Linked DNA regions of Homo sapiens: all the other regions are linked to region 3. Evidence: fine-mapped expression QTL. A gene starts in region 3. Each other region holds a variant in brackets. All regions are shown on one strand. Distances are between the middles of the regions.

Region 1 (10,680 bases), 250 kb before region 3:
CAACAGACTAATATTCACAAATGGTCTGTTTTGAACTTCATAATTAAGGTTGATTAGCATTGCCAATGCTTCCCAGCCTTCCTGGGTCACATAGAAAGGTATAATGTGTGTAGGCAGCCTAGGAAAATGGGAGGGGATTTGGGATTCTTTTTTTTTTGAGACAGAGTTTTGCTCTTGTCACCCAGGCTGGAGTGCAGCAGCTCGATCTCAGCTCTGCAACCTCCGCCTGCCAGGTTCAAGCGATTCTCCTGCCTCAGCTTCCAGAGTAGCTGGGATTACAGGTGCCCGCCAACATGTCCAGCTAATTTTTTTTCTTTTTTGTATTTTCAGTAGAGACGGGGTTTCACCATGTTGGCCAGGCTGGTCTCGAACTCCTGACCCCAGGTCATCCACCCGCCTCTACCTCCCAAAGTGCTGGGATTACAGGCGTGAGCCACCACACCCAGCCAGGGATTTGGGATTCTAATAGAGGCTGTCTTAGTCCGATGGACTAACGGAATGCCATAGACTGGGTGGCTTATAAACAACAAATTTATTTTCCAAAGTTCTGGAGTCTGGGAGGTCCAAGATCAGGATGCCACGATGCCGCGTCTGGTGAGGCCCCACTTCCTGGTTTATAGACCTCAGTCTCATTGAAACCTCACACGATGGAAGGGGCAAGGGAGGTCTGTGGGGATTGTATAGGGGTACTAATCCCATTTGTGAGGGCTCTGCCCTCATGATCTAATCACCTCCCAAAGGCCTCTCTTTCTAATACCATCACATTGGGGGTTAGGATTTCAACACATGAATTTTGGGGGGACACAAACATTCCATCTATAGCAGGCTTCTCTGAGATTAATTGGTCAGGGGCTCCAGACTTTCCAAGGGCTGAGGGAGCAATAACTTGTACTGGGTCAACTCTTGGAAAGCTCTGTGTTAGGGCATAATACTGGTGCTTAAGATCCAGTGTGGACATTTAATAATTTTTTTTTTTTTTTGAGATGGAGTCTCACTCTGTCACCCAGAGGCTGGAGTGCAGTGGCACGATCACTGCTGACTGCAACCACAACCTCCCAGGTTCAGCGATTCTCCTGCCTCAGCCTCTCGAGTAGCTGGGATTACAGGTGCACACCACTGTGCCCAGCTAATTTTTCTATTTTTAGTAGAGATGGTGTTTCACCATGTTGGCCAGGCTGGTCTTGAACTCCTGACCTCAGGTGATTTGCCCGCCTCAGCTTCCCAAAGTGCTGGGATTATAGGTGTGAGCCACCACGCCCAGCCTAATAAAAAAATTGTAATGCAGCGCAGTTCAAAGTTTATTGTGACTTGTATCCTAATACCTTCCCGTCCTTACCACACCCTACCTTGCCTCCCCAAAACAATTGTTTATTAAGCAATTATTTATTGAGCACATGCTGTGCTCCAAAAACTATTTTAGGTGCTTGGAATACATCAGTGAATCAGACAGACAAGGATTATTGCTTGGCAGAATTTCTTTTGAGTATATGTGGGTGGGTTGAGACAGACAATGTGCAATGAACATAATAAATCAGTAAATAACAAAGCTCATTAGATGGTGGAAATGTTAGAGGAAAAAATAGAGCAAGGCAGGGAGGCTACCTGAAGAAGAATTCAAGAGGCCAGGCACAGTGGCTCACACCTGTAATCCCAGCACTTTGGGAGGCCGAGGCAGGTGGATCACTTGAGGTAAGGAGCTCTAGACCAGCCTGGACAACATGGTGAAACTCTGTCTCTACTGAAAAAAAAAAAAAAAACAAAATTAGCTGGGCATGGTGGCAGGTGCCGGTAATCCCAGCTACTCAGGAGGCTGAGGCACGAGAATCACTTGAACCCGGGAAGCAGAGGTGGCAGTGAGCCAAGTTCACACCATTGCACTCTAGCCTAGTCAAAAAGAGCAAAACTCCTTCTCAAAAAAAAAAAAGAATTCAAGAAATGCTTCTGCTTTCATAGTTTCAGAGGTACTCCTAGTCTACAAATGTTAGGCGATTTAAGAACGGCTTATCTCATTTTACAAAGGGTTTCAGTGCCCACCTTTGGGCATTAGGGCATACCTGGAAGCTCCGAGCCTGGGCCTACAGTGGCAAGAAAGGGTAAGGCTTTTGTGCAGGAGAACAGCTCATTACGTGGTAATGCCAGCAGGTATGTAGAGTTCTAGACCTGGAAGGGACTGGGGTCCACCCTCTTGTGTTGCAAATGAGGGCTCACACTGCCACGGCAGTAGCTGGCCTCTGACTCAGGGCTTGGGGTGAGAGGATGCAAGTCTCAGCTGGGGTTTGTACTGTTATCTATCACTGCATAGTAAATTACTTCAAAATTTAGTAGCTTAAAAGAATGCCATGTTTTGGACTCATAGTTCCTGGGGGTCAGGAATCTGGGTATGCTTGGAGGACCCCCTCCCTCAGGGTCACTCATAGGCTGCAATCATGGTGTGGGATCCCAGTGTCCCGTCCCGCATGGCTGTCATAGAGACTCAGCTGGGGCAGGATCCACTTCCAGGCTTGCTCCGTGGTTGGCCTCCAGTGGTGGCAGGACCCAGTTCCCTGCCAGCTGTTGGCCAGAAAACACTCTCAGTCCCCTGCCATGTGGACCTCTCCAGTGTGGCAGCTTGCTTCATCAAAGCCCACAAGAGAGAAAGAGTATGTGCTAGCAAGGTGGAAGTCACAGTCATTTGTAATTTAATCACAGAAGCAAGTCACTAGGTCCAGCCCATACCAGGTCAAGGATGACATCAGGGTGCATCTACCAGAAGGTGGGAATTGTGGACCATCTTCAAAGTCAGCCTACCACAATTTCCATAGCTCCTCTCGCTCCATTTTCTAAGGGACGGCACATCCTGCCCTCACCACCTTTCCTTTTGTTCTGAATGCTAGGGCACTCTTTCCTTCTCACCCTGTCCTCAGCCCTCCCAGGTTTCTCTGAGGAGGCATCCGTCACCCACCCTCTTGCAGAAATTGACTGCATCTCGGCTAGGACCACATGATCAATCCACGATCACTTACTCAGATGGTTTTAATTCTACTTCAACCTTCTAGGCCCAGCCAGACTCAACACCGACCACAGCCTCTGAGACATTTGGGGAGAGGGAGTTTTCACCACAGGGAATTTGGAATAGGCAGCAGTTATCAGATTGAGAGGGGAGCCCTGGCAGGGAGGGTCAGTGGAAACAGTCACTGGCAGCTGCTACTGAGGCATTTGCTGAAAGGGAATGGTTCCTTTTTTTTTCTTTTTTTGAGACAGGCAATCTCAGCTTACTGCAACCTCTGCCTCCCGGGTTCAAGCGATTCTCCTGCCTCAGCCTCCTGAGTAGCTGGGACTATAGGCACACACCACCACACCTGGCTAATTTCTATATTTTTAGTAGAGACAGGCTTTCACCATGTTGGCCAGGCTGGTCTCGAACTCCTGGCCTCATGTCATCGCCCGCCTCAGCCTCCCAAAGTGCTGGGATTACTGGTCTGAGCCACCGCGCCTGGCTGAGGGAATGTTTTCTAGGTTTCTAACAAGCTGTCAGATAAAGTGATGATGGTGGAAAATTCTAAATTAAAGAAAATTCTAACAGCCTCACTCCAGTCGTGTCTCTGCAGGTCAGATTGCATGACAAAGAAAAGATACAACTGAGCTTTCCTTCTGAGATCCAAGCAAGGCAATTCCACAATTCCACAATTAATGGGACACAGTTTGGGGGGATGGCTGTGGTCTGTGTCATATTCCATTCATAAGGGGATATTTAGAACAATTGCACAGTATGTCTGCTGTGTGCAAACCAACAGCACTCTAAATACATCCAAGTGCAAAGTAACCTGGGCTAACACAGGCTTCCTTGGCCCCTCCTCCTTAGCCCATTGTGCATGTTTTATTATATATTTTCTTCACAACTCCCCTTCTCATTTTGACATCCACCCATAGTGGCCATTTGAAACTGTCTGCTAAACGTTTGAGTTGTTTATTTCCCTCCCTCCCTCCCTCCCTTCCTCCCTTCCTTACTCCTCGTCCTTTCTCTTTCTTTCTCAGTCTATGATGCCACCCCTCTTGTAACCTTGAATGCCCTTTGTAAACTCTACTGCCTTTTCCAAAGCAGTTTCAAAACTCATCAGAAGGAGACAGGTAGTGGCTACGCTACGAACGCATCCACCGCAGCCCTGCGTGCTTCTCTCCGGACTAAATCCTCTGAAGGCTGGGTGTGCTGAGCACTGTCCGCCTTCACGGTGAGATGTGTGCGTGTCTGGACTTGTCAGGCCGGAGACACTGAAATGTCCTACCTGTATTCCTCTTGGGGGATCCTTGTTTCTGGAAAATGATTTCTCCTCACATCCTTACAGCTACTTTTTAGACAGAGCTTTCATTTCTGCATGGAGTCTCCAGGGTGTTGACGGTGCCTCCTTTGCCTCATCCTTTTAAAGCATTTTTACTGTTTTTCTTCGGCGGGGGGGGGGTTGAGGGGGCGGGTGGGTTCTGTAACTATACGGCTGTGTACACATATTTCTATCCTGGAGAACAGCCATTGTATGAGTTTGCCAGGGCTGCCATAACAAAGTCCCACAGACTGAATGGCTGAGACAGCAGAGATGTATTTTCTTACAATTCTAGAGGACAGGAATCTGAGATGACAGTGTGGGAGGGGCTGTTTGCTCTTGAGGCCTCTCTCCACGGCTTATAGATGGCCGTCCTTTCCTCCCTGTGTCTTCATAGAGTCTTCTCTGTGTGCAAACGTGTGTGTGTCCTCATTTCTTTTTATAAGGACACTAGTCATAGTGGATTAGGAGGGTCCACCCTAATTACCTCACTTCCACTTAATTATCTTGTAAAGACCCTATCTCCAAATCTAGTCATATTCTGAGGTACTGGGGGTTAGGATTTCAACACGTGAGCTTTGCAGGGGACATAATTCAGCCCACAGCAGTCATAAAACAGAAATAAGCAAAATAATAATAAAAAGCCATCTATAATCTCACACTTTTTGATCTTCCAGTGGCTCCCGATGACACTCAAGGGTCAATGCCAGCTCCTTGACCTCAGCCACATCTCCCCACTCTCCCCGCCCCTCCCCCTCTGTCACCTTCTCCTGCATGCTCTCCATGCACAGGCCAATTCTCATCCTGCTGGGGCCTTTGCCCCTGCTGTTCCCAGACAGCTGCATGGCCATGGACACAGCCCAAACCTGGAAGAGCAAAGAGGCCTCCCACAAGCCCTCTCCCCAGGCATTTGAGAGCAGGGTGTCTCCACCTGGCACTCAGTCCATTTGGGGCTGGAGAATTCTCTGTTATGGGGCTGTCCTTTGCATTGTAGGATGTTTAGCAGCATCTCTGGCCTCTGCCCACTAGAAAGCGGCAGGACTTCTGCAGGTGCGACCACCTAAAGTACCCCCCGGTATTGCCCGAGGCCTCAAAAGAGATGGGCTAGGATAGAGCTGAAGAGCGGGGTGAGGCTCTCATCTCAGTGCCTCAACTCCCTCATTTATAAAATGAGGATAAAATTATTCATAATATGTTAGTTCATGCAATGTGAGCTAGTTTAGTTTAATAGGAGGTAGACTGTGGTGAGGCTTCAATGGGAGAAGATGTATTGAGCAAGTAGAGGAAGGCCAGACCCAGAGCAGGTGTCCAGAGAGCTGGAGCCTTCTTATTCTCTCAGGACCCTGATATTTTATTTATTTTTATTTTTATTAATTTTTTTGTGTGAAATGTAGTCTTGCTTTGTCACCCAGGCTGAGTGCAGTGGTGCGATCTCGGCTCACTGCAACCTCTGCCTCCTGCATTAAAGCAATTCTCCTGCTTCAGCCTCCCAAGTAATTGGGATTACAGGCACATGCCATCACACCCGGCTAATTTTTGTATTTTTAGTAGAGATGGGGTTTCGCCGTGTTGGCCAGGCTGGTCTCGAACTCCTGACCTCAGGTGATCCACCTACTTTAGCCTCCCAAGGTGCTGGGATTAAAGGCATGGGCCACCGCACGCAGCCAACCCTGATATTTTCCTGTACATGCTTATTCATTTACAAATGCCACAAAGCAGGTGCCTGGGAGACTTCATGGCACATAGTAGGTGCTTTATATCCATATGCTGAATGAAGAAATGGAAGTCTGGCCCAACTATGGTAGAAGGCACTGTCTGTTGTGTTCCGGGACACAGCTCCAGTGCAGATGGCACACAGCACCTGGCACATAGTAGGTGTTCAATAAATGTGTTGATTGATGGCATATGACAAATGAAGGAGATTTGTTATAAACTCTGGCCCCTATAGCTTCATATTTCCATTACCTGCCTTTTGTTACTGATGTCTCTTCCCATCATTTTTCTTCTCTCCTATGAAGTTTTGAGGAACTTAGAAAACAGACTTGGCCTTTTTCCTCCTGTGATGGGACTCCCAGGTGCAAGTGACATTTAAGGTCCCTGATCAGCTAGTGAGTCCAAGTCCTTGTTTGACTTGTCTGATGTCCCCTTCCCCAAACCCTTCCC[G/T]GCACACAGGACTACTCCTATCCCATCTCTGTCCGTGCCCAGGCGTGGTCACCATCTTACCTGCTTCATCAAAATGAGCATGGCCTCCCCCCTTTCCATGGCTCACAGGTGAGTCTATGGCCACCCTACCTTCCGGGAGGTACACTCTTTATTCGGGACCCAGATGTCACAACTGTTACCACACAAGACATACCAAATACTTGTTTTGCAAGCATCTCAACCATCAACCACACAGTGAAGGAAGGTTCCAATGAACGCTTCACAACATCCACAAGTGGTGTCTGTGGTCTGGTCTGGTTTTGGTTGCGTTCTGCCACCACATGGCACCAGCCCTCCAATGCCGTGTGTAATGTCAGGGGGCAGAATGGAGTGCTGCTGATGAAAAAATGACAACAAACACACAGGTGCCATGTGCCAGGCCCAGTTCCAACTGCTTTAGGGCCACACCTCCTGAGTCCTCCAACAACCCCACAAGGTAGCTCACTATGACTGGCAACCCGCAATACAGGTGAGGAAGCTCAAGCTTGGAGCAGTAAAGTAACTTGCTCAAAGGCCAGGATGACCAGCTGGCCTCAGTTCACCTGGGTCTTTCTTGGCTTTAGCACCAAAAGTTTCACATCCAGAAAAATCCCTCAGTCCCTGGCAGGCCAGGATGATTGGTGACCCAAGCCAGGTCACCCAGATGATAAGTAGCAGAGCTGGGATCTGAATCCAGTCAGTGAGACTCCAGTATGCACACTCAACTGCTGTGAAAAGCAGCTTTGGAGATAACTGTGATGTGTGTAACCAAGGATGGTAACCAGGAAAAATCAATTGGCCAATTAGTCAAATTCAGGGAGATACTCTGAAATGAATCTTGCATCCATAATGACAAAATAGGGTGAGTCTGTACACCAAAACCACGGGCCCTATAGAGGAAATAACACTGGTATTTCTCTTTGTCTAGAAGTATCCAGGCCGGGCATGATGGCTCATGCCTGTAATCCCAGTGTTTTGGGAGGCCAAGGTGGGCAGATTGCTTGAGCCCAGGAGTTCGAGACCACCCTAGGTGACTTAGGAAGACCCCGTCTCCACAATAAAAAATAAAAAATAAGAATACTAGTCAGGTGTGGTGGCGTTCACCCGTAGTCCCAGCTACTCAAGAGGCTGAGGTAGAAAGATCACTTGGATCTGAGAGGTCAAGGCTGCAGTGAGCTCTGATCGCACCACTGCACTCCAGCTGGGCAGAAGAGTAAGACCCTGTCTCAAAAATAAAATAAAATAATCCAGTTCACTGTCTTAATTTCCCCCTTTGTCACTGGCCACAGAGACCTAGGAATTTAACTTAGGGTCTTGATGCAGGAGATGTCTTTATTTCTAAAACCATGAGTCAGTCACCTCACAGGGGGACATCAGGCAAAGCTGAAACATCCCTTGTTTTCGTTCCCACACTACATCACATGCCTAGCAAAGACTAAAGTAAACTGCTCCTTAAGTATTTCCTTCTGCCAACAGGATTATTTCCCATAACCAATAATGCTGGCTTAGAATAATGAAATAGGGACTCGAAGGTCAGCTTTCAGGCTGAGTTTAAGTCTGTCATTAGAGGGGGAAAAAAACCCACGGAGTTGGATAGTGCCACGTGTCTTTTGCTTAGCACGTATTGAGCTTGTCATAAATATGCAGACACATCCCTCGGCCTTACCTTTATCTTAAATTAAGAATGGCATGCTTGGCCTCTTTCTGACTACGAATGTCTTAGTTAAAAACCAACTCAGAGCTCTTGGGCTGCGAGGCACTCTCTGGCTTGTGTTCACTCAGTTCTGAGTGCTGCCGGGCCTGCTCCTCTGCTGTCAGGGAGCATTCTTGATGTTTAAGACAATAAGCAACCCAGGAGATTAAAGAAGAGCCGTCCTCCGTAGGGCTCAGACAAACTGTAGGACAAGTTTCTGAGGGTTTACTATGCCTGAGAATTAGCTAGGAAGTTTATCTAAAATTCCCTGGTGATTCTGGATCTGCATTTCTTCATCAGTAAAACGCAGGTTTGGCACATAAACCGTAAGGGTTTTCTTGCTCTAGAATTCTCTGTAACGATAGCTCCTTGCCCTATTAGCAGACCATGAACCTCGGCAGATCTTTTATTTATTTATTTATTTATTTATTCATTAGAGTCAGGTAAACATGAAACCTGGAGATTCTGATTCCATAGGTCCAGGGTGGACCCAGGCATCTTCATTTTTTTTTTTTTTTTTGAGACGGAGTCTTGCTGTGTCACCCAGGCTGGAGTGCAGTGGCGCAATCTCAGCTCACTGCAAACTCTGCCTCCTGGTTCAAGCGATTCTCCTGCCTCAGCCTCCCCAGTAGCTGGGATTACAAGTGTGTGCCACCACGCCTGGCTAATTTTTGTTATTTTTAGTAGAGATGGGGTTTCACCATGTTGGCCAGGATAGTCTTGAACTCCTGACCTCGTGATCGACCCTCCTCAGTCTCACAAAGTGCTGGGATTACAGGCGTGAGCCACCGCGCCCGACCTGCATCTTCATTTTTAACAAGCTCCCCAAATGATTCTCATGAGGTTCAAGGCATGTTACCCCCAAATCTGGCACCTTGGCATTTGAGAAAATAGCAGAAGCGGGAAAGCCCTCCTGCCCTGACACAGGTCCTACAACCTAGAAGGTCACTCTCTGACTTTCTCCTGCTCTTCTCTCCTGAAGCCAGTCATAAGACCCTCATTTGAGAGGTTCCCCCTGTACCCAGAGGAGAGGAGTATCCTTATCTCAGAAGATGCAGGGACATAGAGAAGAACCTGAACAAACGCCTTGCAAGTCCCCCCAGGCTAGCACCGCTAGCTCTCCCCTGTCCAATCACACTTCCGCACGCCTGACCACTCTTCATCAAACCTAAGCTTAAAAATATGCAGGTTTCCCACTTTCTTTGGGTCTTCATTTCCACAAACTCTCATGTCAGGTAAAACTTACATGAAGTCAATGTGTATGCTTCTCACTTGTTAAGCTGTCTTTTGTTATAGGTGCCTCAACCATGAACCTAGCAATGAATGAGGAAAGAAATCTTTCTTCCCCTACAATTCTGCTGGGTTTTGCAATCACACTGTGAGAAACTCTACCCTGAGACGTCAAACCGAGGTTTGTCTCACACACGTTTCCTTAAAATTTCCCATATAAGAAAAAATAGAAGCCTAAAATTTAAAGCATTTTCCACATTTTCTCTTGGGTATATGTTTTGTTTAACTCTCTATCCATGGGTGCTTGGGTAGGCAGGAATGTTATCACACCAGTTGTGGATATTAAGTAATTGGCCTTATTTTTTTTTTTTTTTATAGAAAGAATGCTATTGGCTCCAAGGTGCGGTTTGGAAGACGACCGACCTCTATTCCGACCTGGAGGTCAGCTTTGAGGATGCCTCTGCCTGCCATCTTTGGGCGTGTTCACAAGGCACATTTCTTTGAATAGATTTCAGCAGCGACGCATTTTCACTTCTGTGGGGTGGGTGCAAAAGTCATTCAGAGCTGAGTCTGGTGGAGAGGACGGGTGATATGCTGGGAATACTTTTTGCTTTAAAAAGCATTTAAAGTACTTAAATACTTTTTTTTTTTTTTGAGTCAGAGTCTTGCTCTGTCGCCCAGGCTGGAGTGCAGTGGCGCGATCTCGGCTCGCTGCAACCTCCGCCTCCTGGGTTCAAGCGATTCTCCTGCCTTAGCCTCCTGAATAGCTGGGACTACAGGCACCCGCCACCACACCTGGCTAATTTTTGTATTTTTAGTAGAGATGGGGTTTCACTGTGTTAGCCTTGATGGTTTCAATCTCCTGACCTTGTGATCTGCCCACCTCGGCCTTCCAAAGTGCTGGGATTACAAGCATGAGCCACCACGCCCGGGCTTAAATACTTTTAAAGTACCCTTAAAATTAGTACTTTGGGTCTGGGTGTGGTGGCTCATGCTTGTAACTCCAGCACTTTGGGAGGCTAAGGCGAGAGGATCACTTGAGCCCAGGAGTTCGAGACCAGCCTGGGCAACATAGGGAGGCCCCATTTCTCCAAGGGTAAAAAATTAGCTGAGTGTGGTGTCATGTGCCTGTAGCCCCAGCTACTTGGGAGGCTAAGGCAGGAGGATTGCATGAGCCCAGGAGGTTGAGGCTGCAGTGACCTGTGATTGTGCCACTGTACTCCAGCCAGGGTGACAGAGGAAGATCCTGACTCAAAAAGAAAAAAAAAAGAAAAAGAAAAA
Region 2 (10,680 bases), 240 kb before region 3:
TAAAAACAGCTTTGCAGGTCCCCACAACTTGCTTTTCTCAGAAATAGTTCCCAATGCAATGGACCACAGAGACATCAGACCTTGGTTCCCTTGGCGTTTCTTTAGGAGAGACCGCAGGAGAAAGAGATGTCAGGGCAGTTTCTCCATCTCGCCACTATTGACATTTTGGGCTAGTCTCTCTTGTGGTGGGCTGTACTGTGCGTTTTAGATTTAACATCATCCCGGCCATCACCTACAAGATGCCATTAGCAACCCCCTCTCCAGTTGTGACAGAAATGTCTCCAGATATTGCCTGGGTAGTAAAATCAACCCCAGTTAAGAGCCAGGGTGTTGAGAGTCTATATATACATTAACTAAAAAACAACGTCCTGAAGTATCCGAATAGGACAGTAGAGGTTTGACAACACTAGAACAGTCTAGTAAAGCTACGCAGAATAGACCGGTGGTAAACATTTTTCATCAGCCAATAAAATCCTGATTAATTTATCTCATAGGGTGGGGGGGAAATGGTAATCAATGATCATAAAATTTGAAAAAGATTTTTAAATAATAACTTCACGGTGAAAAATTTTTAAAAGACTATGGTGATGATGCTGTGATTAGCTATAATGCGGCTAGTATTTTTGAGCACTTTCTATGTGAAAGGCACTGTGCTAAAATCTGCATTATTTTCCTTAGTCGCAGCAAATATATAGGAGGTAGGTCCTGATATTATCTCCATTTTACAAATGCAGGGCCTGGGCCTGGCCCAAGACTGTTTCCAAAGCACTCTCCCGAAGGTTCTCTGACTACAAATCATTCCCCACTCCCTGAATCCAAAACTGAGTTGAAAAGATGGTATGTATTTGGATAATTATGGAATGGGTTTTTTAAATCCCAAACTCAAAATAATAATAACGGCTACTATGTAGCCATTGCCTGGGGGCGGCAGGTGCATCCTCCCTTTCAATGCTCGCAGTTGTCCTGGGTGAGGGACTTGCTGGCGGTGGCCCAGCGGCCGAAGCAAGATTTCAGGGCAGGAGCCGCTGCCCCTGCCTCCTCCTGAGCGGAAATTAGCTCCGAGGGTCTCCAGGTGGGACCCAGTCCCGCTCCGCGCTGTTTCTGGCTGCTTCCCTCCTTCTTTCTTCTCCGCCACACCAGAGAGGGGCACGAAGGAGTCACTAGACTTGGCCTGACCCCCCGCGCCTGGCAGTCCCTGCCCCGGGGTGTCTTGCTTGAAGGTCGGGAAGACAGTCCTTGGCAGGGCCTGACCCCCCCACCCGCTGAGGGCCCTCCTTTTGAGGCCTCTATGGCAGCCCCCGCGGGCTGACCTGGCCGCCCCCACTGAGCTCCCTGGGTCGGTCCTGCTGGTCTCCGCCTCGCTGGGCTCCTCCCGGGCAGTCCCCTGCCCCCCCACAGCTCTGCGGGACCTTCTCCCCGGAGGCGCCGCTCTGCCTCCCGGGGCCCCCGCAGGTCGCTCCTGCGCTCCCCTCGCCTGGGTGTGAGGAGGACCCGGCCTGGGGACCTCCTGCGCTGGCGCCACTCTCCCTGCTCGCTCCCAACCCGCGCCGGGAGGCTCCCGTCTGTAAGAGGACGGGACACTGAGAGGGCAGCGGGAGGGGGGGCAGATCGTGCGTGACGTGCCCCACGCATCTGAGAAGGGGGTGATGTCTTTGGCACAGGATGAACAAGTTAGTCGCATTTTTCAATGTTTAATGCGGCCCCTTCCCTGCTACCTGGCTGTGCGAAGGCGCACTGCGCCCTCCCTCCCTCCCTCCCTCCCGGAGCTCAGGCTCCCTCCCTCCCCGCATCCCTCTTCTCCCTCCCTCCTGCAGCTCAGGCCCCATCCCTCCCCTCCCTCCCTCTCGCAGCTCAGGCTCCATCGCTCCCCTCTCTCCCGCAGCTCAGGCTCCCTCCCTCCCTCCCATCCTCCCTCCTGTGGCTCAGGCCCCATCCCTCCCCTCCCTCCCTCCTGCAGCTCAGGCTCCATCCCTCCCCTCCCTCCCTTCCTCCCTCCCTACCTCCCGCAGCTCAGGCTCCATCCCTCCCCTCCTTCCTTCCCTTCCGCAGCTCAGGCTCCATCCCTCTCCTCCCTCCCTCCCTCCCTCATGCAGCTCAGGCTCCATCCCTCCCTCCCATCCTCCCTCTTGCAGCTCAGACTCCATCCCTCCCCTCCCTCCCTCCCTTCCACAGCTCAGGCTCCATCCCTCCCCTCCCTCCCTCCCACAGCTCAGGCCCCATCCCTCCCCTCCCTCCCTCCTGCAGCTCAGGCTCCATCCTTCCCCTCCCTCCCTCCCGCGTTCAGGCTCCATCCCTGCCCTCCCCCTCCATCAGGCAGCTCAGGCTCTGTCCCTGCATCCTCTCTCTCCCACAGCTCAGGCTCTATCCCTCTCCTCCCTCCCCTCCCTCTGCTGCTGAGCATCCCGACTCACAGACACCACTGCAGAGCCCGCACACGCCTTGGTTGTGGACAGAGCACATTTGTACACATTGGTCAGAACTGGTCAGGCTTTTCCACAGCCTGAGGAGGAGAAAGTGCCCATCTGACTGAGGTACTCAAACGTGACCATAGTTACCACCATGAACAACTTTAGAGTCTGTGTTTTCTTCCTTGGACTAAAGACATACAGGTGTTTGAACTACTTTTGGTTGACATGGTCTTAGAGTCTATAACACGTTGGCCAACAAGCCCATGGCACTAGACTCCAGGGCTTCAGGACTGGTCAGCCCCGGATACTGAGGCCCTCCCAAGATTTCCTTCAGGTAGGAACCTTGTGGAGGCCTCTGTGGGCCCCTGCACACCCTAAGGTGAGCAAATTCAGCCTCTTTCATCAGGAAACCACAGTTTCCTCCGCTCCTCTGTGGGTTTTGAAGCCTCACCTCAGAGTTCCAGTAAGAGCAATGGTTTCTAAACCTGGATGTGTAAACAAAGGGCCTTGAATTCAACATAATTTTAAAATGCAAATATAGGCCTTACACATGTCCTTGAGGGTTTAAGGCTAGACTTGGGTTGCGAGGCCTTGGGCACGTCACTTAACTTCTGGACTCTCCCATATCCATCTTCCAAATGGACCCTAATGCCAGCCCACTCACTCAAAAGGCTTTATCCATAACCAAATAATGTCAGCAAAAGAATTTATAATTTTTTTAATCACATAAATAAAATTTTCTTTTCTGACAAAAGGTTCTACACAGGCCCCTCTTTGGTCCTTTCCATCTCTAACTTGCTGTAATTGCTGGATGGAGGGGCCGCGCCATTGCAACTGAGACTCGTGGGAACTCACCATGTTATGTGCATTTGACAGCTGCCTGTGACTACGAAGGATGACAGATTCTCCCAAACAGGGAGAAATGATCAGCCCTAGCAGATAGAGGGTGAGGCTTGGGAGCAGCCCCGCCCAGGGCACAAAATGGTGCATTGTTTGAGAGACATTAAAAGCAACCATGAGGCCAGGCACAGTGGGTCATGCCTGTAATGTCAGCACTTTGGGAGGCCAAGGCGGGAGGAACACTTGATGCCAGGAGTTTGAGACCAAGCTGGGCAACATAAGAAGACCCCATCTCTGCTAAAAATACAAAAATTAGCTGGGTGTGGTGATACACGCCTGTAGTCCCAGCTACTCGGGAGGCTGAGGTGGGAGGATCACTTGAGCCCAGGAATTTGAGGCTGCAGTGAGCCATCATCTTACCAATGCATTCCAGCCTGGGCAATAGAACAAAACCCTATCTCAAAAATATTAATAATTAATTAATTTTTTAAAAAGCAGCCATAAAACCCACTAAAGGGTCTGCTTCTTATTTTCACCTAAACAACACCAGTGATGAACTCTTCCTTCTTGGCCAAAAAACCTTTTCTTGGTCTCGGTTTTAAAAATTGCTGCGATTTTGTCTGAGCTTTAATAATATAGCTGTAGATTTCAAATCAGCACATTTTCATGCTTACCCTTCAATAACATTCTATTCTCCACGAGGTTAATCTGGTTAATCTGGAGCACTCCCACCTCCAACACGTGCGGACTCAGCCAACGGCATCTGTTTCAAGCTGCATTCAGGAGGGCCCAGAACCGAGGTGGTTTCAGAGCAGGTCATTCCACAAGGCCTGCAGGGCTGCACGTGCCTGCATGTAAGCAGCAGGTTTGAAAGAAAGAGTGACAGCACAGTGATCGTAGAGAGGAAAAACTACAACTGCAGGGACTTGAATTCTGTCACTGCAGGTGACCACTTTCAGTTTTTATTTGTGTTTAAAATTTAAAACAGTGAGACAGCGTACAAACTGCGGGGGGTAGTATCTTTTTATTAAGTGTAGATTGTACTTCATTCATGAAATATTTTACTGGATGGGAATCATATCTTTCTGTTGAAATGTATTTTCCTTTTAAAATTTTTGTTTTAGATCTAAACACTAAGGAAATGATGACTACTAATGATTATTACTTGAAAATAATATTATTGTACAGAGGAGAATATTAAAAAAAGATCCAAGCTAGGTGCAGTGGCTCACACCTGTAATCCCAGCATTTTGGTGGCCAAGGCAGGCAGATCGCTTGAGCTCAGGAGTTTGAGACCAGCCTGGGCAACATAGGGAGACTCTATATCTACAAAAAAATTCTTAAAAAAAGATTAGCCAGGAGTGGTGGTGCAAACCTGTAGTCCCAGCTACCTGGGAGGCTGTGGTGGGAGGATGGCTTGAGTCCGGGAGGCAGGGGTTGCAGTGAGCCGAGATTGTGCCACTGCCTTCCAACCTGGTTGACAGAGTGAAACTTCATTTCAGGAAAAAAAAATTGATTCTGCTCTGAAAGTCAAGTACACCACCAATGATGAGAAGATGTTTATTTCTCTCTGTTGCTGTGACTAGTCAAAATTGGAAGAACAGGTAATAGGAAATGGCCAATCTTCTTCAGGTTTCTAATA[A/G]GTTTCAACTACAATGGAAAGCTAATTAGCTCGATGGAACACTTGCAGGGTGTTTCTAGTGAGACATGCCGCAGTTTGTGCTCAACTATCGCAGAAGGATGGGAAGGACTCACTCATCCATCCACTCATTCATTCATTTGACAGTTCTTCAGGGGGTGCTTAAAGACACTGTTCTGGGATTTGGGGGCATAAAATCTCTTGCCTTATGGAACTTCCATTCTAATTTGGGGTGTGAGGACTCTGGCAATAAACAGGTAAAACAGACAGTAGGGTCGGAGGTGTTAAGTGCTGTGGAGACCAGCAGAGCAGGGAAGTGGCAAACAGGAGCCCTGGAGGACTCTTCTTGCTAAGCTGAGGGAGGTGAGCAGCGATGGGAAGGTTGGTTATGGAGGAATGCCATTGTCCTGCAGGTGTTAGGAGGACTGGACTGTCTCTAGGTATTAGACCGGCGGATGCAGGCAAAATACAGTCTGTGGGCCAAATCTGGCCCTCAGCCTGATTTTGTGCAGCCTGAACAAAAGAGTGGGTTTTGGAGAGAAAAGTGAGTTTTGGAGTTTGTTTTTTTGAGACAGGGTCTCACTCTGTTGCCCAGGCTGGAGTACAGTGGCACAATCTCCTCCCCGGGTTTAGGTGATCCTCCCACCTTAGCGTCCCCCGAGTAGCTGGGGCTACAGGCGTGCACCACCACACTTGGCTAGTTTTTTTGTATTTTTTGTAGAGATGGGTCTCCCTATGTTGCCCAGGCTGTTCTCGAACTCCTAGATTCAAGCAGTCCACCCACCTCAGCCTCTCAAAGTGCTGGGATTATAGGAGTGAGCCCCCTCACCCAGCCAAAAGTGTTTCTTACATTTTTAAATAGTTGATAAGAAGTCAAAACAGAGTAATACTTTGTGGTACATGAAAACGACGTGAAATTCAAACTTCAATGTCCATTTGCTTATTTATTTTCTGTGGCTGTCTATGTGCTGTGAGGGCAAAGCTGGGTAACTGCAACAGAAACCATAAGGCTAGCAAAGCCTGAAATACATACTATTATGTTGGTGCGAAAATAATTGCACCAACCTGAAATATCTGGCTCTTTACAGAGGAAGTTTACCAACCACTGATTAGACCATAGAGGGATGAGGGTGGGAGCAGGGAGATCAACAGGGGGCTCTTGCAATAGTCCAGGTGAGAGGATCCTGGCTTGGACCAAAGAATAGAAGAGGAGGCCATGAAAAGTGGTTGTATTTTGGATATACAGATGGTTCCCGACTAACGATGGCTTGATTTATGATTTTTTTTAACTTTACAATGGTGCAAAACAGATACACATTCAGTTGAAATCACAGTACACATTTTGAATTCTGATCTTTTCCTGGACTAGCGATATGCAGTATGACACTCGAGACGCTGGGTGCAGCAGTGGGCCTCAGCTCCCAGTCGGCCACGCAACCACGATCACCATCACTTTATAACCAAGTGTTGAATATCTCATGTAATTTACTAAAGCAGAAAAATCATTTCAACTGAAAGATATGACTCCCGTTCAGTAAAATATTTCATGAATGAAGTAAAGTCTACGCTTAATGAAAAGATATTACCCCTCACAGTTTGTACTCTGTCTCGCTATTTTACATTTTAAACCTGACCAAGACTAGAGATCTTCCTGAAGAAGTCCATGCCGGCCAAGCCATGGACAAGTGTGGATGCCCCAGGGCCTGCTACCAGGTATTGTTGAGGCTCATCAGAAGACAGACATGGATGACCCTGTCACAGTAGCATCCCCATCATCCAATTAACTGTAGTTCAATGTGTCCCATATCCTTCAGGCCCTTTGTGATTTCAGCTGTGGATGTCAGGCCCTATACAGCCCTTTTGTTTTCCACCTCCAGTACAGTACTTAACAAATTGCATGAGACAGTCGACACTTTATTGTAAAAAAAAAAAAAAACAATAAAGGCTTTGTGTTAGATGACTCTGCCCAACTGCAGGCTAACCTAAGTGTTCTGAGCATGTTTAAGGCAGGCCAGGCTAAGCTCTGATGTTTGGTAGGTTAGGTATAATACATAATTTTTTGACTTAATGATGTTTTCAATTTATGATGGGATTGCTGGGACATAATCCCATTGTAAATTGGGGAGCATCTGTATTTTGATGGCAGAGACATCAGGATTCACTGATAAGTCCAGTAAAATATGTGAGAGCCAGAAAAGGGTCACGCAGAAGGCCAAGGGTGTAGCTTGTACAGTTGGATGCTGGGGGTTGCTGTTTACTCAGATGGGGGAAGCTCTAGGAGGAGCAGGATTTTTTCGGGGGGGTTGGGGCAGAGGATCAAGAGTTCAGTGAGATCATATCATAGTCCTGTTGTAGTAGTGAGGGTTGGGTATTCTTTTTCCTATTCACCTAATTCAGCTCTGGTAGCTGCCTGGACCTATAATAAATGGCTAGGTATACTCGCTGACATGGAACCTAATGTCAGTGGTATGTTAGACAGACCAAGAGACTCAGACTAACCTAAGGGACATCACATGGGTTGCAATGGACAATGGTGTCAATAAAATTAAAAACAACAACTATTAAGCAACATTGCAGTAGGTTGGGTTCCCCCAGAAGCTGATTTTGAGACACAGGTTCATGTGCAAGAAGCTCATTTGTGAACTAATCTCAGGAACCACTAGCAGGAGAGGGGGTAAGTGAAGACTATGGGGAGAGGGCCGCCTACAGTCAACAGATCGCTGTTCAGGATATGGGGTTCAATCCTGCTGGGGACCTCTAGGAGACCGTACCAAATGTGCCTCTGAGTTGTCCTACCCAAGGTGAGGCTGTTGGGGTATTTATCCTCCAATTCCTCTTTATTATTGGCTGAGGAGATGATAAATGCCTGGCACTTCCACTTCCCAAGTGTGACCTCGGCATGTTTTTGTAGGTAGAGAAAGCTCTCCAGTAAAGTTGCAGGTGCCACTGGTGTCATTGAGAAGGGCAAGTGCCAGGGAGTTCATATTCCCAGTGAGACAGCAAAAGCATCTGATGGAACATGATAATCATGGAAGTGCAGACACCTGCCACCAGCACTCGCTTGTAATGCCCAGAGCCCTGGGGAAAGCTCGACTAATCCCCAGGCCTGTTTCAAACTACAGCCAAGGAGCTTTCTCAAGACCAGAGAAAGTTTTTGAAGGCCCAAGGCATGGTTTCCATATTTGGCCTCATTAAGTCAATTCAAGACCTTTTTATAACCAGAGCGAAAATGTTTTCATGTGATGTATTTCCTAAATTGCTATAAATATTTTTCACGTATGTAGCTTCAATATCGATTTTATTAGAAACAACATGGATTATCTTTTCATTGCTAATGAAAAGAGAAAACATCACTTCATTTACTGAGAACAGTGGCAAAATATTCTAAGATATTGATCAAAAGTTGGGCTGACTACCACTTGTGTTAGCCAGTAATAGAAGCTTCAAAAGGCAGCCCAGGGATAGGCTGAGTTCCATGAAATGAGAAGAGGATTTAGTAGGCAAAAAGTACCTGGATATGTAGATGCAGGTTCCATGGATAGCAAGGCTGACTTTCAGCTTCAACTTACAGGTAACCGAAAGACTGAATAGATCCCATTCCCTGATACTTCCTGATCTCTTTAGAAATGGTTCCAGTCCACCTACAATGAGATATAAGGGAAATAACAGTCAGGCTGTCCACCTAGAGGGGTGAACAAATAAATGCAAACCTCAGAATCACGTTAGTTATTGAGAAACACTCACACTCACACACCAGATGCTCTGAAGGCCAAATAAGTTGCTGTCTACCAAGTTCATGGGCTTAGCGCTAACTACAAGTTGCTTAGGTATTCTGTTAAATCACCTGGATCGTTTAAGGATTTTCATATTTTCGTAACCGTTAAGAGTGTATACAATGTACAGTGATTTAAAGAAAGCAGAACTGGCCAGGCATGGTGGCTCATGCCTGTAATCCCAGCACTTTGGGAGGCCGAGGCGGAAGGATCACCTGAGGTCAGGAGTTGAAGACCAGCCTGGCCAACATGGCAAAACCCCGTCTCTACTAAAAAATACAAAAATTAGCCAGACGTGGTGGCAGGTGCCTGTAATCCCAGCTACTCAGGAGGCTGAGGCACTTGAGTCACTTGAACCTGGGAGGCAGAAGTTACACTGAGCCAAGATCACACCACTGCACTCCAGCCTGGGTGACAGAGACAGACTGCCTCAGAAAAAACAAAAACAACAACAACAAAAAAGAAAATAGAACTCCCAGGTCCATGAAATCATGACGATTGTCACTAAAAATATATCCAATGTATGGAGGCAGGAAGATTTTGTCATCACACATCACAGAGGCCATAAGCCACTGACCTCGTTGCCTCCCTCTTCTGGCAGAGTATGCCTGGCCTTCAAAGGTTGAACACTTATTTTTCAATATTTATTAGCTTTTTAAATTTGTCTTTGAATTGCCCATTTACAGTTTTGCCCGTTTTCCTGTTAAAGCGTTTGTCTTTTTCATATTGATTTGTAAGAGCTGTTTAAATAATTGAGATTGAACATTTATCTGTTGCAACTATTGCAAATATTCCTTTAGTTTTTCATTTCTAAAACTTTATGTGGCATTTTATGACATGTAGAATTGTATACTTTTATGAAGTTATAGCCAAGGTCTTTATGATTTTTTTTCTTGACTTTTATGTGACTAGATGAATATCCACTGATATTTTTCTAATTCATTTAGGTTTTTATTTTAAGTAAAACTCTTCAGACCATCTGGGATGTATTTAGGCAGGGGGAAGGAAATGTAATATTTTTTTTCCCAAATTGTTAACCAGTAGTGTCAGCCATCAATTACTGAATAATCCTTCCTTACTGATTTGTTAACAAGGTGGAGAATTTTATTCCCCAAAATGCTCCATGAGTTTTCTGTTGAAGTGAGAAACAGATTTGCTTCCTAGCGGCTCTCATGTGCTTTTGCCCAGAGGGTGCTAGGGATGCTCGGGAGATGAGGTGGTTCTAGATGCTCTGGCCATCCTAGAGAGGTCTGGCATAGGGGCAAATGGAAACAGAAGTCCTAGGGGACAATTCTGCTGTCCACTGTGGCACAGAGGAGAAAGAAGCAGAGCATTTGAAGGAGAAAGTCAGTGGGGATGCCATGAGAAAGCTGCGTGGGCGAGAGAAAGGAGAGGTAGCTGGTAGCTACTGTGAGTACTGAAGTTTGGGGAACAGAAATATTTCCAAAGAAGATCTTCAGGAAGTTTTCTAAAGATGAATTTCTTTCAGAAAATCTGTAGCAAAATTTCTATCATTCTTGAAAGTGTCTTAAATTGAATGTGTTTTCTTGGAATGAGACTGCAAAAACTGGACTACATGCGACATATATCTGGGTTCACCATATATCACGAGGCCATTTCAAAGACATTTGGAATGCTGCCTCATTTGTTAAGAAACTTTATATATTCTTTACTTAAGATGTATTGCTAAATTCTTAAATATCATAGCTTCTTTCTGAGATTTAGATTATATTATGTTCTTGTACTAGGTCCTACTTACTTAAATGCTCATCCTTTTAACTTTCTCTGTTACCGCCCATAAGGGATCTTCATCTATCACAAATGATACATCTAGATTATAGTAGAATCTAACCCCAGCCAATGAAAAACATAGCTGGAAATCCATACCTTATTTGCCAGGTAAGAGCTGAGGGGAACTCTTTCCTTGATCTGAGTGGAGCACAATCGATGCTGCTGGTCCTAGGAAACTCCTGGCTGCCAGAACCAGTGGGCTGTACAGACAGCATGTCTGGCTGGGGCA
Region 3 (9,905 bases):
AGAAAAAGACGACAGGGGAGACAAAGAGACCCGCAGCGACAAGGCAAGGGGGAGACGAGGGAAGACTGGGAGAAGACGGAGGAGCGGAGGACGAGGAAAGGGGGGCCAGGGAAAAAAAAGGAATTGATGTGAAATCCAAGCCCAGCGTCCGCGCCATCGGCACCCGCGCTCCGAGCAGGGGTTGACGGCCGGCTATGGTGAGTGCAGCCAGCGCGGCGGCCGCCGACGCCACCTCGCCTCGCGCGCCGTGCTCCTCGGGCGGCGCGGGGACACGGGGACGCGGGACGCCCCGCGCGGCGGACGGAGGAGCGAGCCCCGAGCGCCGGGCAGGAGGGGCGGGCCGCGCGCCGGGGCCGTGGAGCCGGGTGGGCTGCGCCGCCTGGGCGCGGGAGCGCGGGTCCCGCGCCTCCACGCTCGCTCGCACGCCCGGGCCCCCGCCCCCGAGGCCAGCCCCGCGTGGCGGGGAGGGGGCTGGCCGCGGCGGGCCCCGGCTGAGGAACGGCTCCGGGGGGAATTCTCACGGAGGGGGTCGCCGGAGCTCCCATTTTCACGCCTGAAAGGGTCGCCACCTTGGCTTCCGCTCATCAGCCTGGTGGTGGCTACTGACTCGCCAGCGGAGGCAGAGCTGGTGATGGAAGGGCTGGTGCGGAGAGTGACAGCGCCGAGGGGAGGGGGCTCAGAGCGCGCGCGCGGAAGCCGCTGCCGCCAGCTCGCGGGAGCAGCCGCAGCCGCAGGGAAGGGCACGCTCGCGCCCCGCAGACCCGCTCTCGAGCCCGCACGCACGCCTAGGGGTGCGGGACACCCGGGCTAGAAGAGACGCACCTTACCCACCTCCCCTCCCATGCTGCGGGAAAAGGGCCAGAGAGGCTTTTGGAGTTCTGGAAGGGGCGGTGGGTAAGAGAGGTGGTGTGTGTGACTCTTATGCCCACCGATTCAGGCGCTTGGGTGGCTGCCACCCTTACAGAGATGGGCGACCAGCCCAGTGCTTAGAGTGCAGAGTGCGGCCTCAGGGGAGCCCGGGGGCGGGCCGGACCGATTCTCACTTTACAGGCCCGGGCCCAGCGCTGAACCCCAAGACCCCCAGAAACTGTGCCTCTGGGTGACATGCGCTGTGTCTCCACGTATTTAGTACGTTCATGTTTAAAATGATGCTAGCGTGTGGATGAGCACACTCTCAGGGAAACTGATCTGTTTCCATCACCTAAGAAGAACCATATGGGTGGGCGGCTGTGGAAGACACCCACAGACCTGTTTTCCTGCACCTGGGAGAGAAGACCGTCTTCCTCCCTTTTTATCCTTTCTTCCTCCCTGGGGAGGAGAAATACAAAAGAACTAGACATAAATAATAAAGAGCCACAATGGGTGGCTCTAAATATTTGATAATTGGATCACTGAGGTCTTGAACTACCACAATAGTCCTTTTTCAGCATTCTGTGTGTGTGCATTTCTTTTAGGTTTTTATTTATTTCTGTGTTTATTGGCGACAGTAGTTCAGCATGCAATTAATCGCCTCCACAAAGAAAGACAATGCTTTATGGTGTCATCCTTTGTTATTGCAACTTAAAATTTCTGGGTGGTACTCCGGATAAATTGTTGCCTCAGGTGCATGGAGTGCCCAAGTTGTAAAACAAGGGGCTTTCGATTGTGAGTTTATGTGTGTTCCAGTTGTCACCCAGCTTCCTTCCACAAGGCTATAAAATGCCTTTGAGTCCATGATCTGTTTCAATTAAAATGTTGAATCAAGGTAGACATCAATAGGCCCCGCCATTCTCAATTTGGGGTATTAGCTTCATTTCAAACTCACTGTGAGTGGTGTATCTAATTTCTGGTTATAAAGTAGTCATAATCTTTGAAGCTATTTGAACAAAACTTAGAACCATTTGGAATTATTTTCTGAAAAGAAAAAGGCTGTTTTACAAAATTATCTTCAACTTTCTACAGATAGATAAACTGATGAGGTTAATCAATGTGGATTAAAATATGTCTCCCGTTTTTATCCTCATTCCTCTCTCTCTCTCACACACACACACACACACACACACACCTTTTATTTTCTCCAGCCTCTGCCACAGTGTATAATGCCCTATTGAGACGTGTAGGCGTGATGTGTAAACCGGATTAGCAGTATGAAAGAAAGACACACAATAAGCTGGAATTGTTTTACTTCCCTTTCATTTCTCATGCCTATATTTCTGATAAATTTGTTGCTCCAGCAGTGGGTCAAAGGGATCATGTTGCTCAGCTTCTTTTTCATGCAGGACCCAATAGCAGAGATCACTGAAATGAATGGTGTGCCTCCTAGCAAACGCAAAGCTTGATAGAGATATATTAGACAGGGAGAGGCGAGGAGAGGGAAGGATGCAAAACATGTTCAAAGTCTGGGTGTTGTAGGAATACATCTCTATCCATGAGAGGAAAGCAATGTGGGTAAGAATATATTTGGAGAGAGAGGGATCAATGCAGGGGTCAATGCTCTGTTTTCTTTCAAGTTCATAGTAGGCTCTGAACATTCAGCAGTTGGTGACATGCTTAGCAAGAGAATACCAATAGCTTTTGGCAATACATAAAGTCTAATTCCCCTTTCAAGCTAGTATTTAGACCTGGAGTAATCAATGTGGAGATTTCTGGGACCTTCTCAGGACACTCCCCTCTGCCGCTTTCCCCACCCCCAGCTCACTGTAAGCTCAAAAAATGCCAGTGCTCCCGGGTTTGTGCTGTAGACCCCTCATTTACTCCTTTGTGGAGTTAGGAGCAGCTTCCCATTAAAGGAGATCAGGGGTAATTAGCAGCATTATTTTGACAAGTTGGCTAGAGCTGTTCCCTTTCCTCCAGCCTGGGGAGGGGGTAAATAAGGGGAGGAAACAGAAGGTGGAAGGGAGTAGGGGAGGGGAGTCAAGCCCAGTAGTTTTAAATTTTGTAGCTGCTGAATCTCCCCCCACCCCGTCCCCGACTTCCCTGAAACCTTTTAGACTCATTTTCTACCATCACCTTTTAAGAATATACAAAAGCTGCCAATGAGAAAATAGTAAGGCATTCTTAGGGAGCCAAGAAAATGTGGTGGATGGTGGCACATTGGCTTGAGTTGAGTCGACTCAACTCATATTCAAGGTACCTGCTTGGAACTGCTGAAGCCCTGCCTTGACCATCACTCACATCCTGTATCCTGGGCTCCCCATGCAGTAAAAGAATATTGCATCAAATCCCCAATTCCTCTCTCCATCCGACCCTCTCAACAAAAATACTGTAGGACTTAAAATCATGTTTGCAATTCCTTGTATTTCTGGAAGAGTATTAAACTCAGTAGACAAAATTATAAATGGCCCCAGGGTCAAATTACTGGAATACATTAACCCCTTTATTCATTTATACTCTGCAAAACTTGCCAAATTACATTGGATTTTAAAGACTCATTTGGTTTGATCTGAGAAACCAGTGAAAAGTTAAATCTCACTGTGGTTTTTCATAACTCCACCAAGTCTGGCTTCCACAATTGCTTACCATTGGAACATCCCAACACAAAGGGCAGATGTTTTATTTCATTGTCATCATTTGGATAATCTGATGTCATTTTTGAAATGTGTGTGGTGTGGCCATGGATATTTGTAGTATTGGAACAGAGAAGGGAGGAGATGTGAGGGAATCCGGAGAGCTTAAGGCATCTGCTTTGAAAACTACACACTCCAATGAGAAGTCTTGGATCATGACTGGGAGACCAAAATGACAATTTATGCATTGAGATGAACTTTACTTGGAAAGGGGAAATGGAACACTCAGCTGTTGCTTCATAAAGGCTGGCAACTCCTGCTGGCTGATAAGGCCCCAAGTTCTCACTTATTTTTATTTGGTAACTGTCACAAGGGGTGCCAGAGGCAGAAGGGCCATTTAAAGGGACTGTCTTCCCGGAGGACACCTTAGCAGGTCTGGCTGCCCCAGTCTGCATCTCAGATCTGTGGAATCCTTGTGGTTAGTTGAAGTTAACAAACCCGGTGTGGCACAGCAGTCCCCTGCACAGGGCATGCATATTAAAGCCGACAATGCTTACAAATGTAAATAAGGGCAGATTGATTAGGAACAACATTATCGCTGGGAATGTCGCACTCGCATGCATCAGCAATGAGGCAAATTGGGGGCAGCCTCAGCCCTGACCACCCAAGTCGAGCAGGCTTTTACACTGGCTCCTCTTCCCTTTCTTAAAACGTTACAGAAACAAGGCCAATTAGATCCTCAAAGTAATTCATCTCTAAGTATGAAAAAAGCAGACCACAGGGGAAGCGGCGGGTGGGGGGTGGGGAGATTAAGATAGCGCTCGTTAGAGCCGAGGCTCCGGAGTGCGTCCTGGAACCCACGGGTAGAATTTACAGGCCGGGACCATTGTCTGAGATGCTGAAAAGTTAACCCATCAAACAGCGGGCGAGGGGGCTCAGGGCACTGAAAGCTCCGGGGATCAATGTTCAAAACGTTTAGGAATTAAGTCAAACTAAGGGATATGGGCCTGAGTGGAAGAGGCTTTGCCACTGAAATGACGTGCATGTGGCAGCCGCCGGAACCAGAGGACATGCAGCCGCGTGCGGAGAGTGAGGCGGATCCATTACGGGCACACAGCTTACCATTTCCTTCCAGAATTCCTTCTTCCAAACAAGCTATACTGAAATCCCTCTAGTAAAAGATTGAGACGAAACACTAATAGTTTTGGGCCAAAACGTGGTGGAGAAGTTTGAAAAGACAAACATAGCAACGTGTCTTTGGCTATATGGTTCCTTGCCCTCCAGCAAGCTTGAAATATAAAAAGGCTAACATGCAAAACTAGGGGTACTACCCCCCTCCCCCAGTTTTTAAAAAGCAATTTCCAGAAGCAAACACACAATGGTTCGACTTGAAGTGTCGGCATAACCATTCAGTAAGAAAAGCTAGAATAGTAAACCTCTTTTCCTGTTTTGTGCTATTTATCAAACCTAATAAACATCAGGATCGTACTCAAAGATGAAACTGGCAATGTGTGGAGCCGTCTGAGCTCTTTATCAACTCAGTGTCATTTTCCTCGCATGCTGCCCGCCTGCTTTCCGAGTTTCCGCAGCCCTTCCCTGAGGCACTCACAAAATCACGTGCTCCTTAAGCGGTCTGAGTTTTGAATTTCCGCGCTGGCCCGGTGCTCAGGTCCCCCTCCGGATCCCGCGAACGCCCCCAAACACCTCCACCCCGTCTCCCTCTCTTCCTCGGGACATCCCGCCCTGACCCCGGCACCGCATACGGTTTGCGGGTTAGGGGGTCGGGGGAAGGGCCTCCCCCTGAAGCCGGGGAGGAGGAGAGGCTGGAGGGAAGGTGGCCAGGCTGGTGGGGGAGGGGAGATTGAGGGAGGGAGCGGGGCGAGGGAGGAAGGAGAAGGCGCAGGCCGAAGGAAGGAAGCGGGGAGGGGAAACCGCCGGGGAGGAAGGAAGGGGGCGGGGAGAGCCGGCGGACGGGCCCCCTGCGGGAGCCGCGTGGACCGCCCCGGTGGCCGGCGCGCCCCGCCGCAGCCCCCAGCGCGCCCGGGCAGCCAGCGCGGGGCCGCTGAATGGGCAGGGACTCGTGAGCGCGACCATTGGCCGGTCGCGGGGAGGCGGCGCGGGCATTGGGCAGCGTAAGGGGGCCGGTCCGCCTTCAGGAATGTACTACGGCGCGTCCGGCACGTCCGTCCGCGCCGGCTGGGCGCGCGCCTCGCCTGGGCTCTCGGGAGACCGCGCTGGAGGCCCGGAGCCGGCCCGGCGCATCCGCCTCCCTACCTACTCTGCCCCGGCCGCGCGGGCGCGGGGAGTCCGGGAGCCGGGCGCGCGCGCGCACCGGGCCTCCTGGCGCGGGGTCACGTGGCCACCGGAGCTCCGCCTTCTCCCTGCTCCTCCCCCTTTCCCTCCATCTGGGTTTCTTTCTTTCCTTTCCTTTCTTTCTTCTTTTTTTTTCAATGAACATACACCGTGCGCATCTTAAAGCCACACCGCCCCATTTCACGACTTCACTAGACTTCTCGCTACTGCCAGTCCCTCTGCAGTTCAACCCCGTTTAAAAAAAAAAATAAAGTGAAGCAAATCAAGGGTTTGCGGGTCGGGTTCCTACCGCAGGGAGGAACGTAATAACTTGGAAACGTAAGAAAAACACATTCCACTTTCCGAAAACAAAAATTTTTTTAAATAAAAAGCCTAGTTGTGTAGACGTGTCTGGCTCCAGAATCCACCTCAAAGGGTCGCGTGTTTTCCCCCTCCGCGGGAAGCGAATCCCCGGGATGCCTTGGTGACACTGGACGCGGTGTCGGGACGAATCCTCGCGATCCGCGCACAGTTTGTTTTCAATGAATCCAGCATCGGGGCATTTATAATCTCCTACGTCATACTATTATTAAATATAACATGCATACCGAGTTTTGTAAAAAAAAATACTGACTATATAAACATCTGGTTAATAAAAAGGGGTGTACAAATGAACCCAAAATAATCAGGAAAACTTTACTCTCTCAAGGAAACAATTCCGTTTCTCTAAGTTGTAAAAAAAGATTCTGTTGTTTCTCTTTTACTTATGTCACATTCGAGATTCAAATAAAAACGCCTCTGCCTCTACAAGACTGCTTCGGTGTCTGGATTCCACGTTTATAGAACACTGACTCCTTCAAACCAAGACTGTGTTTTTTTTTTTTTTAAGTTGGGGGGAGAAAGCGGCTGGGGGGCAGACGGATTTTAAGAAAGATGGCTTTTCCCAACGTCCTTGCTTTCCTCTTTAACTTTCCATTCTGTTTATCTTAATGCGAGGCGTTGTTCCCTGCAAGAGCCTAAGTCTTCCCTTTAGTTATAAAAGAAAAGAGAAGAGGAAAAAAAAATCTGGCACACACTGGCGCACTATCCAGCACGCTGTCATTATTGGTGCAGGCCTGGGAATGCGAGCCGGACCTCCCAGTATTTGCTGCAGCTTGAGGCCAAGGTGCCTCTGAAAGGCTTTTCTTTGAGGAATTTCAGAAATTGTTTAAGCGCTTAAAAAAATATTACATTTCCCCCCGTGTCTACCGCGAGGCAAATGTTCGTGTGTGTGCGTGCGCGCGCGTGTGTGCGCGCAAAGGCATCCCACAAAAAGAAGACACTGTTGAAAAGAAAAGGAATAAGAGAGAAAGGAGGGGGAGCATTCCTTAATGGAAGTATTGCATGCGAGAAGGTTGGCGCTCTCAGAGGCTGCCCCGAAGCCGAGGATGCACACACTGGGTTGCCTACCTGGGTGGTCTCTCTACTTTGGTGAGCTGTTGCTAAGCAGCTAATAATAGTCATGTTTGCTGAGTAATTTCTGCCCTCCGCGAGCCAATCGCGTCGCAGAAACCCAAGCCATCTGACAGCCCCGGGGGCGGGAGCTCCAGCCTTTTTCTCTTTCGCTCGCTCTCTCCCCCTCCACCCCCTCCCCTCCCCTCCTCCTCTTCTTTCTCCAAATGGAGAGAGTTCTTTTTTTTCTTCTTCCATCTCATCTATTGAATCAAGGAGCTGCTGCGGCCGCTGCCCGCTGCACACACACAGAGCGGAGTCCCCAGGTCCCGGGAGCGAGAGAGGCGCGCTGCACGGGGACAGAATGGTCCAGCGGGTTGCCGAGGAGCACAAGAAAGCAGAGTCCGGGACCGAGCAGCCACCGCGAACCCAGCAGCCAGAGCCCGAGCAGCCCGAGCAGCAGCTCCTGGAGCCGCCACCGCCAGCAGCAGCCACCGCGGGAGCAGCGGCAGCTGCGGCTGCCCGGGCCCGGCAGCGCTGAGACCCGCCGGGCACCCTCGGACCCCGCGGCGGCGGCGGCTCTGCGCTTGCCCTCCGCGGCCGCTCGGGCGACCCGGGAGGCGCCGAGAGAGCCAGCGCGGCCGGCGGGAGCAGCGGGGATTCGCTGGCTCTTTCTGCAGTGAAGGGGTCGCGGCGCGGGGCGGGGGGCGGGTAGGGGGAGTTGGGGACCGCAAGGAGTGCCGCGGAAGCGCCCGAAGGACAGGCTCGCTCGGCGCGCCGGCTCTCGCTCTTCCGCGAACTGGATGTGGGCAGCGGCGGCCGCAGAGACCTCGGGACCCCCGCGCAATGTGGCAATGGAAGGCGCAGGGTCTGACTCCCCGGCAGCGGCCGCGGCCGCAGCGGCAGCAGCGCCCGCCGTGTGAGCAGCAGCAGCGGCTGGTCTGTCAACCGGAGCCCGAGCCCGAGCAGCCTGCGGCCAGCAGCGTCCTCGCAAGCCGAGCGCCCAGGCGCGCCAGGAGCCCGCAGCAGCGGCAGCAGCGCGCCGGGCCGCCCGGGAAGCCTCCGTCCCCGCGGCGGCGGCGGCGGCGGCGGCAACATGGCCTCGGCTGGTAACGCCGCCGAGCCCCAGGACCGCGGCGGCGGCGGCAGCGGCTGTATCGGTGCCCCGGGACGGCCGGCTGGAGGCGGGAGGCGCAGACGGACGGGGGGGCTGCGCCGTGCTGCCGCGCCGGACCGGGACTATCTGCACCGGCCCAGCTACTGCGACGCCGCCTTCGCTCTGGAGCAGATTTCCAAGGTGCATTTCAGACTCTCTCCTCCCACTTTCTCTTCCCTCCTCTAACTCTTTGGGATCGCCCCCGCCACACACAAACACACACACTCTCTTCCTCTCTCTCTCACACACACACACACACTCACTCACACCTCTCCAGGAAAAGCAGCAGACAAATGGGGATTGAAAAATTCAAACCCTCCCTCTGGTCCTGGGAGGAAAGGGCTGTCTGAGGTCCGCAGGGGGTGGAGGTGTGTGTGTGTGCGTGTGTGTGTGTGTATACACACGCCCTCCCTGGTGTGCCTTTTCCGGAGCACTGGAAAGCCGTCCACGGCGGACCACCTCAAGGGCGGCCGCGGCACTGTCCTGCCCCGTGCCCCCTGCCCTGAACTTCTTCCTCCTGCGCCCCTGCCCCTATTTGCAGCCTAAACTCCTGTACGGCTGCCACATTTCTTAACATCTTGGAGGGGGAGGCGGAGTGGAGAGAGGCGGAGAGAGGAAGGGGGGAGGGAGCCGAAATAAAGGTGGTTTCCTTTTTTGGCAGCCAGTTTTGGTTTTGTTGAGCATGAAATCTCTGCTCCCTTAAAAAATTATTCTCGGAAAAAGATATCCCCCCCGTTTTCCAGGTTTTGAGCCGCCTCTCCTTAGGGCCTGGTCGGGGGAGGAAAAGTTGTAAACAAATTGCCACCTTAAATTCGCGGTGCGAGTCTGCGGAGCTGCCGGGTTCATTGTGTTTACGAGGCTCGCTGAAATGTGTGGAATCCAGGGAAGGCGAGCACCCAGACGGGGGCCCGCCGGGGCCGCGGCCAGCGCCGGGGAAATGCCGCGCCGGGGAGCAGCCTGCGCCGGCCTGAGCCCTTCCCTTTGCACTCGGCTGTTTTTTACGTTTAACCAGAAAGGAAGGGAGAGGAGGGAAAGATCCATGTGGCTGCCCTCTTCCGATCACAAATATTGTCGTAAGTTGCAGCTGGCTGCCCCACTTCCTAATTCAGCTCACACAGCCTCTCCCCACGCTATGGAAATGCGTCGGGAGTGAACTCCGGCGGCCGCGCTCACCACGTGGATCCCCACTTACTACCATTCTCGGCGGGGGTCCAGTTGGGGGAACCCGCAATATGTTGTTCCAAAGAGCGCTCGCCCCTAGCGCCCGTCCCCGAGGGTGATGGACAGAGCAGGACTGGTTTGCTGGCTCCTGAACCTTGGGCTCCATCGCTGGGATTACGCAGCCCCTCCCTTCTCAGCTCTGGGGTGAATATTGTCTGTGTCGAGTGGTTTCTCTCCTCTCTACCTCGGCTTCCTCTTCTGTATTGCAGCCCCAGTGCCCCAAGTCGCTCAGGGATCCCGCGGGTGGGGGCGCCCTGATGTCCCCGAGGTGCAGCTCCCACGCTGCGGCCCGGCTTTATGACCGAGCCCCCCATGACGCT

Evidence for each region. PIP is the estimated chance that this variant, and not a neighbour inherited with it, causes the effect.
Region 1: its variant is the best candidate, but not a certain one, in a credible set for the expression of PTCH1 in T cells (TOPMed, PIP 0.88).
Region 2: its variant is the best candidate, but not a certain one, in a credible set for the expression of PTCH1 in whole blood (INTERVAL, PIP 0.65).

The regions. Positions count from the first base shown.
Region 1 is chr9:95,758,622-95,769,301 of GRCh38, reverse strand. It overlaps LOC105376161 (a long non-coding RNA gene), which reads right to left and starts at 4,370. Exons shown (of 3, transcript XR_930145.4): 1 at 4,263-4,370. RefSeq lists a silencer at 6,637-6,686. The variant G/T (reference allele first, on the strand shown) is at 6,459.
Region 2 is chr9:95,743,067-95,753,746 of GRCh38, reverse strand. No RefSeq gene overlaps it. Among named protein-coding and RNA genes, the nearest start is that of ERCC6L2, 130 kb to the left of the region's middle. The variant A/G (reference allele first, on the strand shown) is at 4,891.
Region 3 is chr9:95,506,761-95,516,665 of GRCh38, reverse strand. It overlaps PTCH1 (patched 1), which reads left to right and starts at 7,400. Exons shown (of 24, transcript NM_000264.5): 1 at 7,400-8,505. The coding sequence starts at 8,305. RefSeq lists enhancers at 3,634-4,606, 4,472-5,233, 5,234-5,997, 6,951-7,500, 9,086-9,719 and silencers at 5,161-5,210, 5,431-5,870, 8,145-8,464, 9,245-9,294, 9,825-9,905.